Linked DNA regions of Homo sapiens: region 2 is linked to region 1. Evidence: fine-mapped expression QTL. Tissue or cell type: substantia nigra. Region 1 holds a variant in brackets; the other region holds the start of a gene. All regions are shown on one strand. Distances are from middle to middle.

Region 1 (8,255 bases):
TGATGTAAAGTGTTAGGGCCAAGAGGTAATAGAAACCCCTGGAGTTTTCCTTGGAACTGAGATTAATTTTCGTCATTTAACAGGGATACTTACTTCCAGGTTCATCTGAGCAGGGACTTGGGAGGGGTCTCTTTGCCTTACTCTGGTGTTTCCATTACGGAGACTTTGAGCCAAGTTAGATTAGTTTATGGCAGCCCAGTTTAGGAAATGATTTTTTTCTGGTTGGTTGGATGGTTTGGTTGGTTTTTTTTTTTTTTTTAAGATGGAGTTTTGCTCTTGTTGTCCAGGCTAGAGTGCGATGGCACAATCTCGGCTCGCTGGAGCCTCCGCCTCCGGGGTTCAAGTGATTCTCCTGCCTCAGCCTCCTGAGTAGCTGGGATTACAGGTGCCCGCCACTCTGCCCAGCTAATTTTGTGTGTGTGTGTGTGTTGTTTTTTTTTTTTTTTTTTTTTTTTTTTTTTTTTTTTTGACAGAGTCTTGCTCCGTCGCCCAGGCTGGAGTGCAGTGGCGCCATCTCAGCTCACTGCAAGCTCCGCCTCCCAGGTTCATGCCATTCTCCTACCTCAGCCTCCCAAGTAGCTGGGACTACAGGCACCCACCATGATGCCTGGCTAATTTTTTGTATTTTTAGTAGAGACAGGGTTTCACTGTGTTTGCCAGGATAGTCTCGATCTCCTGACCTCGTGATCCTCCTGTCTCAGCCTCCCAAAGTTCTGGGATTATAGGTGTGAACCACCGCTACCAGCCAATTTTTTGTATTTCTAGTAGAGACGGGGTTTCTCCATGTTGGCCAGGCTGGTGTCCAACTCCTGACATCATGCAATCCACCTGCCTTGGCCTCCCAAAGTGCTGGGATTATAGGCATGAGCCACCGCACCTGGCAGTTTGTTTTTTTTGAGATGGAGTCTCTCTGTTGCCCAGGATGGAGTACGCGATCTAACAGCTCACTGCAGCCTTCACCTCCCATGCCCCAGCAGTCCCTCCCACCTCAGTCTTCCAAGTAGCTGAGACCACAGGCATGTACCACCATACCTGGCTAATATTTTTCTATTTCTGTAGAGGTGGGGTCTCCCTATATTACCAGGCTGGTCTGAAACTCCTGGGCTCAAACCATCCTCCTGCCTCAGCCTCCCAAAGTGCTGGGATTTTTTTTGTTTGTTTGTTTTTGAGACGGAGTCTTGCTCTGTCGCCCAGGCTGGAGTGCAGTGGCGCGATCTCGGCTCACTGCCAGCTCCGCCTCCTGGGTTCACGCCATTCTCCTGCCTCAGCTTCCTGAGTAGCTGGGACTACAGGCGCCCACCACCATGCCTGGCTAATTTTTTTTTTTGTATTTTTAGTAGAGACAGGGTTTCACTGTCTTAGCCAGGATGGTCTCAATCTGCTGACCTCGTGATCCGCCCTCCTCGGCCTCCCAAAGTGCTGGGATTATAGGCATGAGCCATTCTCGCCTGGCCTTGACCTGGTCTGTTTTTAATAAATGAGAAACATAAACCCACAAATTCTCTAAATTTATGATGCCATGGACTTACGTAAATGTTACTTCAACCTAAAACTTAACATTATTGTTAGTTTCTGGTCTTCAGCAGTCCCCTTTGAGAAAAAGCATTTATTCCCTAACAGATCACTTCTCCCGGATCACCTAAACTGGTAGCACACAATATCGCAACGCACTTTTATAGCGTTTACTGTGATGAATGGAGCATATTAATGTCTCTTCTGTGGATATGATTGATTCTCCCCCTTCCTTAGTGTTGTCTTCAAGCAAATATAGTTGGACCGACACTGAGTTTGATGTAGTTTACTTTAGGATTGTATTTATTATTGTATTTATTTCCAGGCTTAATCATAACATTGCTTATTGCTCGTAGCTTTGTAGCATTCTTACCCAGGAGTTTTGTGGTTGACCAACCACACAAAAAAAGTCACTTTTTAATTTTATTTATTATTTCTCCTCTTAGACCGCAGGATGGAAACAAGCCCACTGAGACTAGTCAACCTCAATCTAGCACAGGGGGTTACAACCAGCCCAGCCTAGGATATGGACAGAGTAACTACAGTTATCCCCAGGTACCTGGGAGCTACCCCATGCAGCCAGTCACTGCACCTCCATCCTACCCTCCTACCAGGTCAGTCTACTTTTTGTGGCAAAACAAAAACAGTGACAAAACAGTTTTTTTCAGGTTGTTGACCAGCTTGCTTTGACTTCTTCAGCTAAGGTATGTTATCTGACTGTCGCAGTGATAAGTCATCTGACCATACTTGGTTACATTAAAGCCTGAGATCTAGGGTCCCATAGTGTTGCCTGGCAGCTAATAACTATTCTTTTTTCTTTTTTTTTTTTTTTCCCCCGAGACGGAGTCTCTCTCTGTCGCCCAGGCTGGAGTGCAGTGGCGCGATCTCGGCTCACTGCAAGCTCCACCTCCTGGGTTCACGCCATTCTCCTGCCTCAACCTCCCGAGTAGCTGGGACTACGGGTGCCCGCCACCACGCCCAGCTAATTTTTTGTATTTTTAGTAGAGACAGGGTTTCACTGTGTTGGCCAGGATGGTCTCAATCTCCTGACCTCGTGATCCACCCATCTCGGCCTCCCACAGTGCTGGGATTACAGGCGTGAGCCACCGCACCCGGCCCAGCTAATAACTATTCTTTCTAAATACAAAAACATTTTTACCACTCTAAGTTCTTTCTTTAAGTTTCTTCCTTTTGCTGTTTTAGTTAACTCAGATGGGAAGCAGAAGTATATGAAAGCATGTAAATAGATGTAAGAGCCATCTTCCCCAATGCAGTTAGGATAAGTAAAGCGCAGGGCATTATAATTCACCTTAATCATTTTACATTTTACCTAACACATAAAGGTTTATTCATGCACTAACCTTTTAATGTATGGGCCAACTCTTTTTATTTTATTTTTATTATTATCGCCTGGCCAAGTTTTCTTTTTTGAGACAGAGTCTCACTCTGTTGCACAGGCTGGAGTGCAGTGGCACGATCTCCGCTCACTGCAACCTCTGCCTCCTAGGGATTCTCATGCCTCAGCCTCCCGAGTAGCTGGGACTGCAAGTGCATGCCACCACACCTGACTAACTTTTCTTTTTGTTTTATTGTTGTTTTGAGATGGAGTTTCGCTCTTGTTGCCCAGGCTGGAGTGCAATGGCACAATCTCGGCTTACTGCAGTTTCCACCTCCTGGGTTCAAGTGATTCTCCTGCTTCAGCCTCCTGAGTAGCTGGGATTACAAGTGCTCACTACCACACCTGGCAAAAATTTTTTTTTTTGTATTTTTAGTAGAGACAGGGTTTCACCATGTGGGCCAGGCTTGTCTGGAATTCCTGACCTCAGGTGATCCACCCGCCTCCACCTCCCAAAGTGCTGGGGTGACAGGCGCGAGCCCCTGCGCCCAGCCAGTTTGTTTGTTTGTTTTGAGATGGAGTTTTGCTCTTGTTGCCCAGGCTGGAGTGCAATGGCGTGATCTTGGCTCACCGCAACCTCTGCCTCCTGGGTTCAAGCGATTCTCCTGCCTCAGCCTCCCTAGTAGCTGGGATTAGATACAGACGCCACCACAACCGGCTAATTTTGTATTTTTAGTAGAGACGGGGTTTCTCCATGTTGGTCAGGCTGGTCTTGAACTCCCATCCTCAGGTGATCCGCCTGCCTCGGCCTCCCAAAGTGCTGGGAATACAGGCATGAGCCACTGCGCCTGGCCCAGTTTTTGTATTTTTAGTAGATACAGGGTTTCACAATGTTGGCCAGGCTGGTCTTGAACTCCTGGCCTCAAGTGATCCGCCCACCTTGGCCTCCCAAAGTGCTGGGATTATGGGATTACAGGTGTGAGCCACCATGCCCAGCCTGCAAGTTTTCTTAACCCATGTTTAATTAGATGTGGGTTTTCAAATTGTTTGAATTGTGCCCTGAAAGTTTTGCTAGAAGTAGCGGTTCCCTTTTTTGCACTCATTTCATTGTTTTGCAGCAGATGTGAACAGGTTTAGGAACAAGTAGAATTGATTGGGTGTCTCTCCATACAGCCAGCTTGGAGCAAAAGTGGGTAGGGCTTACAACCCTTCTTCCACAGAGCAGGTTCGTACCTATTGCATTGAGAGCAGTTAATAGCAGTTAATCTGGCAAGTTGGATAGGTACACAGTGAGAGATTATTGAATTCATACAGCAATGGTGAGGGATGTGGTGTGTTAGAAGCTTTGTTTGTTTGTTTATTTTTGGAGACCGGGTCTCACTCTGTTGTCCAGGCTGGGGTACAGTGACACAGTCGTAGCCCCCTGTAGCCTCGAACTTCCTGGCCTAGTTTAATCGGACTTTAAAATATGTGTCCTTACTGTTTCTCATCATGATTTGTAAAGCTTAATACCAGATGGGTTTTTTTGTTTTTGTGTGTGTTTTGTTTTGTTTTTTTGAGACGGAGTTTCACTCCTGTTACCTAGGCTGGAGTGCAATGGTGCGATCTTGGCTCACCGCAACCCTCGCCTCCCAGGTTAAAGTGATTCTCCTACGTCAGCCTCCCAAGTAGCTGGCATTATAGGCATGTGCCACCACACACAGCTAATTTTGTATTTTTAGTAGAGACGGTGTTTTTCCATGTTGGTCAGGCTAGTCTCGAACCCCTGACCTCAGGTGATCCACCCGTCTCTGCCTCCCAAAGTGCTGGGATTACAGGTGTGAGCCACTGCTTCTGGCCCTTGTTTTTTTTTTTTTTTTTTTGAGATGGAGTTTTGCTCTGTTGCCCAGGTTGGAGTGCAGTGGCGCTGTCTTGGCTCACTGCAGCCTCTGCCTTCCAGGTTTAAAC[A/G]GTTCTCTTGCCGCAGCCTCTCGAGTAGCTGGGACTATAGGCGTGTGCCACCATACCCAGCTAATTTTTGTATTTTTAGTAGGTGGGGTTTCACTATGTTGGTCAGGCTGGTCTCAAACTCCTGACCTCAGGTGATCCACCTGCCTTGGCCTCCCAAAGTGCTGGGATTACAGGCATGAGCCTTCAAACCTGGCCAATACCAGTTCTTTTCAAGCTTCATTTCTGTGCAAGAATGTATCTATTAATTTCTCCCATGTAATTGACATAATCTTAATATTTGTCTTTCATACAATTCCTTCATTCTGAAGTTTCCTCTATTAATACTCAGATTTCATAGTTAATCAGGCATGTCTGAAAGATTGAAAGTAGCAAAGACAAATCTTTGAGGGAAAACTACTATTTTTGTGTTGAGTACCCTTATCCCTTCAGAAAATCGTTAACTCGAGATTATTGGCGGGCAGGCTTGGAACTGAATGCCTCACTTCACTCTCTCTATATTTTCTCAGTCCCCATTTCACTGGGTCAGCCTTCCCCAAGTGCATATTCTTGCCACAATACAGGAAGCATCTAAACTCCCATATTTGCCTGCCTTGAATATAGTTGAAAATGACGTTTTGTTTTGTTCTTTTGAGACGGAGTCTCGCTCTGTCGCCCAGGCTGGAGTGCAGTGGCACTATCTCGGCTCACTGCAAGCTCCGCCTCCTGGGTTCATGCCATTCTCCTGCCTCAGCCTCCCCAGTAGCTGGGACTACAGGCGCCCACCACCAGGCCTGGCTAATTTTTTGTATTTTTTAGTAGAGATGGGGGTTTCACCATGTTAGCCAGGATGGTCTCGATCTCTTGACCTCATGATGTGCCTGCCTCGGCCTCCCAAAGTGCTGAGATTACAAGCGTGAGCCACCGCACCCGGCCTGATTTTTTGGGTTTTTTTTTGGAGACGGAATCTTCACTCTGTTCCCGAGTCGCCAAGGCTGGAGTACAGTAGCGGATCTCAGCTCACTGCAAACTCCACCTCCCGGGTTCATGCCATTCCCCCAGCCTCAGCCTTCCAAAGTGCTGGGATTACAGGCATGAGCCTCCGCTCCCAGCTGAAAATGACCATTGTTTTAAATGGGAGTGGCGATTAAGAGAAAACTCTTTAAGGATTATACAGATGGTGGTTATAATATTTCCCCCTCCCAGCTGGGCACCGTGGCTCATGCCTGTAATCCCAGCACTTTGGGAGGCCGAGGTGGGCGGATCATGAGGTCAGGAGATGGAGACCATCCTGGCTAACAAGATGAAACCCTGTCTCTACTAAAAACAAAAAAACTAGCCAGGCGTGGTGGTGGGCACCTGTAGTCCCAGCTACTCGGGAGGCTGCGGCAGGAGAATGGCATGAACCCGGGAGGCAGAGCTTGCAGTGACCGGAGATCACGCCACTGCATTCCAGCCTAGGCAACAGAGCAACACTCTGTCTCAAAAAAAAAAAAAAAAAAAAAAAAAATTTTTTTGTTTTACCCTCCCATTTAATGTTTTATTCTGAACACAAAAGTATTTGCTGAGTTGAAATTCAAATTGTTGATGTGTAGAAAGTAACTACTGTTTTATGGATGTCTGTGTCACATGGTGTGAATGTCTCTTTTATTCAGGGGATTTGAAATAACAAGCCTCTTTCTAAAAAAGCTTTTTTTTTTTTCTCTTCTCTCTCTTTCAGCTATTCCTCTACACAGCCGACTAGTTATGATCAGAGCAGTTACTCTCAGCAGAACACCTATGGGCAACCGAGCAGCTATGGACAGCAGAGTAGCTATGGTCAACAAAGCAGCTATGGGCAGCAGCCTCCCACTAGTTACCCACCCCAAACTGGATCCTACAGCCAAGCTCCAAGTCAATATAGCCAACAGAGCAGCAGCTACGGGCAGCAGAGTGAGTTGCTAAGAGAGAAAACCAAATAAGAATGAATGTGTTTAGAGTTTTTTTGTGGGGTTGATTTTTTTTGTTGGTTTGTTTTTCTTTTGAGATGGAGTTTCACTCTTGGGGCTGAGGCTGGAGTACAGTGGTGCCATCTCAGCTCACTGCAGCCTCCGCCTCCTGGTTCAAGCAATTCTCCTGCCCCAGCCTCCCGAGTAGCTGAGATGATAGGCGCCTGCCACTATGCCCAGCTATTTTTTGTATTTTTCGTAGAGACGGGGTTTCACCATGTTGGTCAGGCTGGTCTCGAACTCCTGACCTCAGGTGATCCTCCCGCCTCAGCCACCCAGAGTGTTGGGATTACAGTCATGAGCCACTGCGCCCAGCCACGTTTGGAGTTTTTGAACAGGGGGAATACTCTTTGCCATTGTTTGCTTTTGGAATCCAGGACACATCTTTAGGGCATGGCATTCCAGCTAACATCTTGGATGCCCCAGTGAAGATTTCAGTGCTTTTTTCCAATTTGTTTTTAGTATGCCTTGGCAAAAAAGAAAAGAGATACTAATTGATCAGAAAAAATGTTTTAGACTGCTAGCCCTGCTGTCTTTGGGGAAGTTGTATGCAGTGAGTAAATTCAACATCGTTTTTGGCCTCCCTATCAGTCATTAATGTAAAGTGGGGAGGCAGCTATTGCAGGCCACTATGATTTTGATAGTCAAGTAAAAGCTATGTTTTTTTGTTGCTGTTTGTTTATATCCATTAAGGGGAAAAATGGCCAGGCATGGTGGCTCACACCTGTAATCCCAGCACTTTGGGGGAGGCCAAGGCAGGAGGATCACTTGAGACCAGGAGTTTGAGACCACCCTGGGCAACATAGTGAGACCCTGTCTTTTTAAAGATAAATAAAGATTCTTTAAGAAAATAGAAAAGGAAAGGGGGAAAAATAATCCTCCTCACAGAATATTTGCAGTTCTTCTGTATGGAGAGAGGTAACCAAAACACATAATTATCTTCAGAATTTAGGATCATTGCTCTTTTTAAATTACATTCTATCCACGGGGATTTCTCAACAACTCAAAGGAGTAGTGTTGATTTATGGAGCTCAGCCCCTAGCAGTGTGCTAAAGCCCTAAGAAACCTGGCTCTGTTTTCATTTCTTGAGTTTAGCTCAAAAGAAGCTGCTTTTGGAGACATCTTAGGATATAGAACCCTATAAACTATATGTTAGCCAGAGGGCTTTTTTTGTTGTTGTTATTTAGAAGAGGTTTATTATAGGCTAACTATATAAGGTTATTTCAGCTGTGATGATCCAGCAGTTTTGTTGAACTTAAAAGAGCCTACCTATTAAGGATGCTTTATCGTGATGTAAAGAAGATGGTGCCTTGGTTAGTGCCTTGGAATTGAGGATTTTGTGATTCCAGGAGAAAGTACATCAGGCAGTGGTGTAAATGCTGGTCCATGGCTTACAGATGTGACTCTTTCCTCAGGTTCATTCCGACAGGACCACCCCAGTAGCATGGGTGTTTATGGGCAGGAGTCTGGAGGATTTTCCGGACCAGGAGAGAACC
Region 2 (8,000 bases), 32 kb after region 1:
GCCCCTCCGGACCCGCAGAGCTGGGGACATGGCATGCCCTGCACTCAGTCACCCCGAGGGCTGAGCCAGATTCCTGGATGTGATGGACCAGCTCAGCTGTCCCCAGACCCCATCCCTTCTCCTTTTCCTTTGTGGCCTTAACCCTTCTGCATCAGGGAGCCCCCTCTGCCTCTTGAGTACCAGACCTCATGGGACCAGACCCCTTGGGACCACATGGCACAATGGGACCTCTGTTGTACATTCCGGTTGGGGGATGAGCGTTGCTATTTAATTACTAATATTATTGAATGCCTTAGAGGAGGCCGGGCGAGCCCGGTGTTCTGAAGACCTGTGGCCCAGCAGAGCCTCTGACAGTAAAGTTTTGCTCCAGCCACCTGTCTGTTTCTTGGGGACTCCACCTTGGGGCCATTCAGACCCTTTCGAGGACCCTGGAGTTAACTGCCTGGAGGCCAAGCCTGGCAACTCTGACCTCTAGGCTTAAGGCGTTATCCCGCCCAGCCCAGAAATCCCAGGCGCACTCAAATTATTTTCCCTTTTATTATCCCGTGGTAGGTGTGGCATAAAGAATATGTCCAGTGAAGCTCCAGGAGCAGGCTGCGTGTTTCCAGTCAAGTTCATAGCCAAGTCCTTTCCATCCAATGGGATTGTGACCCATTGAGGTCCCAGAAAGGACTGGTCATCTCCAATGGAGCTTGGGACCTGGTTGGGTCCAATGAGGTTCAAAAGGGGGCCAGTCGCTTAGGAGACTGGGTTGGAGCTTTCCTCATCCAATCAGGGCGGAGACTTCCCTGTCCAGTCCCAGTGAAGTTGGGCGATCCCGTCCAATCCAGGTCCCTGATTGTCCCAGTCACAAGGTGGGGCCCATGGATGGCACTGTCCGATCGGGTCACATGAGGCTGCAGCGCGCGGGATGCAGCGCCCCCTGCAGGCGCAGGGCCGGGTGTGCAGGGCGCGCGCGCACCAGAGCGCAGCGCAGCAGCTCGCGGAAGAGACGCAGCACGTGCCAGTTGTACTTGGCGGAGCACTCGAGGTAGCCGCAGCGCCAGCCCCTGCGCACTAGGGCGGCCAGCGCGCGCCGCGGTCCGAAGCGCAGCCGCTGCCTGTCCCGCTTGTTGCCTACCACGAGGATGGGCGCTTCGGGCGCGCCCGCCGGCCTGGGGGCCGAATGGAGATGAGAGACGCGGGGACCCCACGGCCGGAGAATTCCCCCAGTGGGTATACACACGCAGGCGCATTCCCTTCCTACGGCCAGAGACACCGCCCCCCCCGCCGCCCCAACGAAACCCCAGGCCCATGTGGGCCAAAGAGCACATACAGCTTAAGACCTTCCCACGGGCGAAGGCCTAAGACCCGGCCCACGACGTTGGGAGACCCTACACACTCTCCTCAGGCAAAGGCCCTGCCAGACCTGTCCTAGCTCCCCACCGCCAGAACTGCCGGGCCCCTACCTGGTCTCCGCGATGCGCTGCCGCAGGGCCTTCACGTAGTCGAAACTGTCCGGGCTGCAGATGTCGTAGACGAGCACGAAGGCGTCCGTGTCCTGCAAGCTCCAGTCCTTAGCGTCTGGCCACTCCTGGGGACAGGAGGCCAGGGTTTGCGGAAGCCTCCTTTCCACTCTTCCGCTCTCGAACCCTCTGCAGGGGCCTGGACGCTAATCCTCAGGCCAACATCACCCCCATACAGACCTCTGTGCCCCTCCCCCAAGCTTTCCGGGCCGTCTCCTCATGACCACCAGGGTAAAATTTTCCAAATCGTGCCTGGAGCCTGTCAGCCAGCCTCCTTCATCCTTGGTCTCCCCTCTGTTTACCCCGAATCTTCCTCTTTTCAGCTTTCCCCAACTCGGCTCAGGCCGCTCTCCTCCCTAGATGCTCTCGGTGCTTACCACGGCCTCTAAGACTAATTCCAAAGCCCTTGGCCCGAGTCCCGTGGTCCACCACGCCCCCAGATTGTCAGCTGTAACCGTTTATGACCGTAGCGTAAGCACCTGCTGGTCTTTCCACCTGGTATGTTTTTGCCACTTCCTTTACTCAGAACTTCACTCGGTCTTCCAGGTTCAGCTCAAATGCCACTCCCTCCAGGAAGCCCTGCTTAATCCTGCCTGCTCTTTCCTCTTCACTGCTCTAGGGTCGGAGGTCTGTCCTTTACTTTGCACAAATTACTAAACGAGTCTTCGCTCCAGGGGACAAAAATGATAGGGCAGAGAATGAACCCCTCCACCAGCCCCCGTAGAAAGTACACCCCTGCTCCTGACCCCAGTCTCTCCCATTGTAGCTCTGCTCAAGGCCCCAAACACAAAACGCCACACTCTCGGGAAGGCACCGTTATGCACCACCAAGAGCTGCTCCACACCCCCAGCCGAGGCAGGCAAAGGTGGAGGCGCTCACAGGAGCAAGGGAACGCCCCTGGGCAAAATCGCCCGGCCTCCAGCCTGGGCTTGGGCGTCTCCAGGTCGGCGGGAAGGGCTGAAACGCAAGTATCCCAGGACGCACACACATCCCTCCATCCCGGAGCACAGCCAGGCGCCCGAGGCCTCCACGCGGACACGCACGTGTGCACCGAGCACGCACACCCCTCACACTGTCACACGCCCCTGCCCGCTCCTCGAGCCGCTACCTCCGGACCCCCGGGGCTCGAGCCGGGGCCAGCGACGTCGCCGTCGCGGATGCTCAAGTCGTAGACGGCGCCGTCGAGCAGCACCGCGGGTCGGTAGAGGCGCGGCCCGTCCGTGGGCCGGTGGCGCTCGGGGTAGTCACCGAACAGGAACTGGCGGATGATGGCCGTCTTGCCCACGCCCGGGGCGCCTAGAACGGCCACCCGCAGGCTACCCCCCATGGCCGGCCGGCGCTGTCGCTCCCCGCGCTGGAAAGCCTCATGGGCCGGCGCCGCACCGTGCGCCCCCAGGCCGTGCGCCCCGCGCGCCCTGCCCGGTGCGCCACGGCCCCGTCGCGCTTCTCGTCGCCCCTCGGAGCACCGAGACCGGAGAGGGCAGGCCCGAGGCAGGAGCTGGCGGCGGGAGGGCAGACAGACAGCCGAGTGGGCAGACAGGTGGCGGGCGCGCGAGCGGCTCGGGCGGGTGCCGAAGCTCGAGAGAGAGCAGAGCCGGAGCGGCGCTCAGACACCGCCTCCGCCCCGCAGCGCCAACCCAGGCGCCGGCGGACGCGCGAGGCGCCGAAGTCCGCCCCTCTCGCGGCGCGGGTCCCGCAGCGGTGCGGGGCGCGGGGGGCAGCGCTGCCTCCCGGAGCCTCTGTGCCTCTATCCTTCTCTCGCTTCCGCGCCTGGAGTCGCCGCCCCAGCCGCCGGCGCGAGCGAGCGGGGCCTCCCGGAGGCGGCGATGAGGTAACCGCCCGCCCCTCCCACCTTCCCCCACCGCCCAGGACGCCCCTCCCAGGAAGGGTCGCAGGAAGGTGACTGGGGGACAGAGATCCCGGAGAGGGCCTACCCCTTCCTTACCTCCTCCGCGTGTCCCGCTCCTCTCACCCGCTCCAAAATAGAAGCCCCTTCCCACCCACTGCCGCGGCCGCTCTTCCAAACACTGCTCGCCCCCACGCTGGCTCCCGACAAGCCCCGGCCCCCGGAGTCAGGCCGCCCGGGGTCCGAATTGGGGGGGGCGGCTGTGTGACCTTGGGCGAATCGCCGCACTGCGCTGGGTCTGCGCTCCGCATCCATCACAGGCAGACTCCTCAAGAGGCTCCAACCTTTTCTTGAGAGCCTACTATGTGCCAGGCCCATTACCTACGTGATTCTCGAACCTACAGCCTCAGCCTGGCATCGCTGGTTGAGAGAAGAGGAAACAGGCCCGAGAGGGGAATCTGCAAGGTTAGAAGGGCAGTGGGGGGGCCCTTGAAGTCTCCTTTGAAGTCCCTCCTACCTTCCTCCTGCCCACGGGGGTAAATGGCCCACACTAGACAATATTCAAACAGCCGTCCTCGAGGGGAAGTGGGGACAGAGGGTGCCGAGACCACAGCAGCTTAGCCCCAGATCCCTGTCCCAGCAAGGCTGGAGGTGACTAAATAAAGATCCAGAAATTGGCCCACTCCACCTCCATCACTACTAAGGTCACCTTTCCTGCGTGAGTTGCAACCCGTAGCGCCCCTCAAAGGGATGCAACCTCCAAAACAGGCGCCCAGAGCCCAAGTTCCCCCTCCCTCGAGCTAGTGGAGAAGCTCCTGCCCCATCACAGCTTGGAAAGCCTGGGTTAGCCCAGCCCCCCCATCCTCCGCCTCTGCTCTCCTCCCCGCTGTGTGGGGGCTCCCACGTCTCTGACCTGCACATGGCAATGCTCAAGAAATGGCGGCAATGCTCAAGAAATGGCCGCAATGCACAGATCTCTGCACTGACTAAGGAGTTCATTTATTTATCCCCTCAACAAATATTCCAAATCTTATTGCTTGTCAGGAGGCTGAGATAGATTTAAAAAACAGAAAACAGGAAAAAAAAAAAAAGTTCTGCTTTGGGAGAGAAGGTTCTAGAACACATGGGATCTAGGGACTGTCAAAGCACAGACAATGTGCCCACACCAGCCCAGGGGAAGTAGAGGAGCTAAATCCTGAAGGGGGAGGAGGCACATCCTCCAGGGAGCCTGTATAATGACAACCAGAAAGTGTCTCCAGAACAATGGCTGTGCTTTCATCCTCCCATGCTAGATCGGGGGCTGGGGTCCGCTTTCACTCCTCTCCTCAGCCACTAGGAAGCTCAGAACCACCTCTGTCTAGTGTTCCAGGTCTTCTAGCTCAGTGAGTGGGGACTGCTGGCTTCATCTTTCTTTCCTACCATGATTTTTCCCTTCACTTGATGTCCTCTTTCACGTTGTAACTTTTCAGACTTCTGGGTTTTGTTGTTTGAGACAAGGTCTTGCTCTGTCACCCAAGCTGGAGTGCAGTGGTGTGATCTTAGCTCACTGCATCCTCAACCTCCTGGGTTCAAGTGATCCTCCTTGCCTCAGTCTCTCAAATAGCTGGGACTGCAGGTGTGTACTACGACATCCAGCTGATTTATTTTTATTTTTTGTAGAGGTGGAATCTCACTATGTTGCCCAGGCTGGTCTTGAACTCCTGGCTTAAGCAATCCTCCCTCCTCAGCCTCCAAAAGTGCGAGGATTACAGGCGTGAGCCACCACATCTGGCCAAACTTCTGGGTTTTTGACTTTTCAGGCTTCTGGGTTTTGTGAGCTGCTTCAATTCCTTCGGGGAACAAGGCAAGGAGTAAATAACAAGGCACTCAGCAACACAACAACAAAACCCAGAAGTCTGAAAAGCTGACACCAGGACGGTCTTTTGTTTGTTTGTTTTGAGATGGAGTCTCGGTCTGTCACCCAGGCTGGAGTGCAGTGGTGCGATCTTGGCTCACTGCAACCTCCACCTCCTGGGTTCAAGCAATTCTCCTGTCTCAGCCTCTAGAGTAGCTGGGACTACAGGCACATGCCACCATGCCCGGCTAATTTTTGTGTTTTTTAGTAGAGACGGGGTTTCACCATATTGGTCAGGCTGGTCTCGAACTGCTGACCTCAGGTGATCCACCCGCCTCAGCCTCCCAAAGTGCTGGGGTTTCAGGCATGAGCCACTGCGCCCGGCCAGGACGGTCTTTTTTAAGGTGTTCTCAATGCTAGGCGCACTCCCGCCCACCCCTGGGTATTCTTTCTCTGAAAAACTTTCCTTGCTTCTCCTTCCGACACTGCAAACAGAGCTGTGTGTGAGGCGTCTCTGGCTCCCAGTATGTGTTTTTGGATGGCGAGGGGAAGGGGCACTGTGGACTGGGAACGTCCTGAGGCTCCCATGAAGCCCTGCAAACGTGCCATGTTCCCTAGGAGACTCTCACAGCAGCGTTCCTAGCAGCAGTGCCCATTTATCAAGGGCCTGCGATGTGCCAAGCCTGACCCACAGCCTCATGCTCACTAAGGCTCCCTGGGACGCCATGATTGGGCCACAGTTGCCTAGCAGGAAAATGGCAGCACAGGGGCCGGAACCCAGGCCCTTGGGCTCCAGAGCCTGGCTGAGAAGCCTGGCTTCATCTGGACCCAGAGGGTTCTCAGGAAGTACTCAACTGAAGCTCAGCCCCCAGTGACCACTCAGCCCCCTGTCGGGAGGGACTTGGGGAGGCCTCTAGGTCCCGTGGAGCCCCCCATCCACAGGGGCTGAAATGAGCTCTAATGGGAGTGTGCAGCCCTGTGCCAGGCTTCCTAAAGACCAGCAGGCTGGGGGGCTGAAGCTGCCTGTCTGCCTGGGATGTGGATTTCAGGGTTCTCTCATCAGTCCCCTCATTCCTTCCCCAAGGAAAGGCTGTAGGCCTCCTGCCTGCTGCCCCCCTCCAATCCCTATTCCCCAGGGGCCTCCTGGGCACTCCTTGAATGCCCCTATCCAGGGCTCCAGGGACCACCTGCCAACTATGCATGCATCTTCTCCTTCAGCAGAGGGGACTGGCACTAGGCACACAGTGGCCAAGGTGGTCCTGCCTACCCTCTGTGGCAGGGAGAAAGAGACAGACATGCAGCTAGGCAGGGACGGGTGAAGACAGGAGCTCTGGGCTGGTTCAGGCCTGGGGAGATGAGGAGGCCTAGGGTAAGCACCAGTCCAGCGGGAGTTGAGGGGCTTATACTGAGCCCTGAAGGATCAAGCCACAGATAGTGGGGAGGGCTGGGCAGGGGCAGGCACCAGGTGGGGAATTCTGCTTTCCCCAGTTCATTGCCCACAGGCTCCTAACACCAGCTACCTGGCCTTCACCCATGTGTTTCTTCCCAACTGGGCCTGATTCCAGCCCATCCCTGAAGTCAGGCACCCAAGACTGCATCCAGCTCCCAGGGGGTGTTAGTTCTGGACTCCTTTGCTAGGCCACACCAGTCACCACTAATTATGGTCTGTCCTGGCCACGAATCATGGCTCCACACCACCAGTAACTCACCTCCTGGACCCACGAATGGAGGGATCCTCCACAGCTCACATGCTTGGGGTGTAGTGGGTCCTTGGACATCCTCATGATGACTCCCACTAATCACAGCCAGGCAGCCTCTTGAGGGCTGGGCTGGTCTTCCAGCCATCAGGACACAAGGAGGCTGGGCAGGGCTGGGCTTCCAAGCCTCTGAAAGTTTCTTTTCTTGGGTTTGAAACCTCCTTCCAGGGCTGTGTCATCTGTGCAAGTTACTTAAATTCTCTGCACCTTGGGCTGGGTGCAGTGGCTGACGCCTGTAATTCCAGCACCTTGGGGAGGCCCAGGCGGGAGGATCGCTTGGGCCCAGGAGTTCCAGACCAGCCTGGGCAACACAGTGAGACCCCGACTCTAGAAAAAATTTTAAAAATTGGCTGGGTGCAGTGGCTCACGCCTGTAATCCCAGCATTTTGGGAGGCCGAGGCAGGGGAATCACGAGGTCAGGCATTTGAGACCAGCCTGGCCAACATGGTGAAACCCCATCTCTATTAAAAATATAAAAATTAGCCAGGCATGGTGGCGGGGGCCTGTAGTCCCAGCTACTCTGGAGGCTGAGGCAGGAGAGTCACTTGAACCCGGGAGGCAGAGGTTGCAGTGAGCCGAGATTGCGCCACTGCACTCCAGCCTGGGTGACAGAGCGAGACTCCGTCTCAAAAAAAAAAAAAAAAAAAAATTAAAAAACTAGCTGGGTGCTGTAATCCCAGCACTTCGGGAGGCTGAGGCAGGTGGATCACGAGGTCAGGAGATACAGATCATCCTGGCTAACATGGTGAAACCACGTCTCTACTAAAAAATACAAAAAATTAGTCGGGCATGGTGGTGGGCGCCTGTAGTCCCAGTTACTCGGGAGGCTGAGGCAGGAGAATGGCGTGAACCCGGGAGGCAGAGGTTGCAGTGAGCCAAGATCGCACCACTGCACTCCAGCCTGGGCGACAGAGCAAGACTCTGTCTCAAAAAAAAAAAAAAAAAATTAGCTAGGCGTGGTGGTGCACACCTGTGGTCCCAGCTACTCAGGAAGCTGAGGTGGGAGGATTGCTTGAGCCCTGGAGGTCGAGGCTACAGTAAGCCATGATCACACCACT

Alleles and levels. Alleles are on the strand shown, and positions count from the first base shown. SD is a standard deviation of normalised expression in the study named.
For the expression in substantia nigra of the gene that starts at base 3,283 in region 2, allele A in region 1 goes with a higher level than allele G (moderate effect, 0.60 SD a copy in GTEx).

The links. PIP is the estimated chance that this variant, and not a neighbour inherited with it, causes the effect.
Region 2: RASL10A starts here. The variant in region 1 is fine-mapped to the expression of RASL10A in substantia nigra (GTEx, PIP 0.92).

The regions. Positions count from the first base shown.
Region 1 is chr22:29,280,432-29,288,686 of GRCh38, forward strand. EWSR1 (EWS RNA binding protein 1) reads left to right here. Exons shown (of 17, transcript NM_005243.4): 6 at 1,959-2,126; 7 at 6,492-6,703; 8 at 8,175-8,255. Among named protein-coding and RNA genes, the nearest start is that of EWSR1, 16 kb to the left of the region's middle. The variant A/G (reference allele first, on the strand shown) is at 4,796.
Region 2 is chr22:29,312,415-29,320,414 of GRCh38, forward strand. It overlaps RASL10A (RAS like family 10 member A), which reads right to left and starts at 3,283. Exons shown (of 3, transcript NM_006477.5): 1 at 2,614-3,283; 2 at 1,449-1,573; 3 at 519-1,154. The coding sequence starts at 2,832. The coding sequence ends at 887. GAS2L1 (growth arrest specific 2 like 1) reads left to right here. Exons shown (of 6, transcript NM_001362985.3): 6 at 1-373. The coding sequence ends at 83. RefSeq lists enhancers at 1,670-2,474, 2,475-3,279.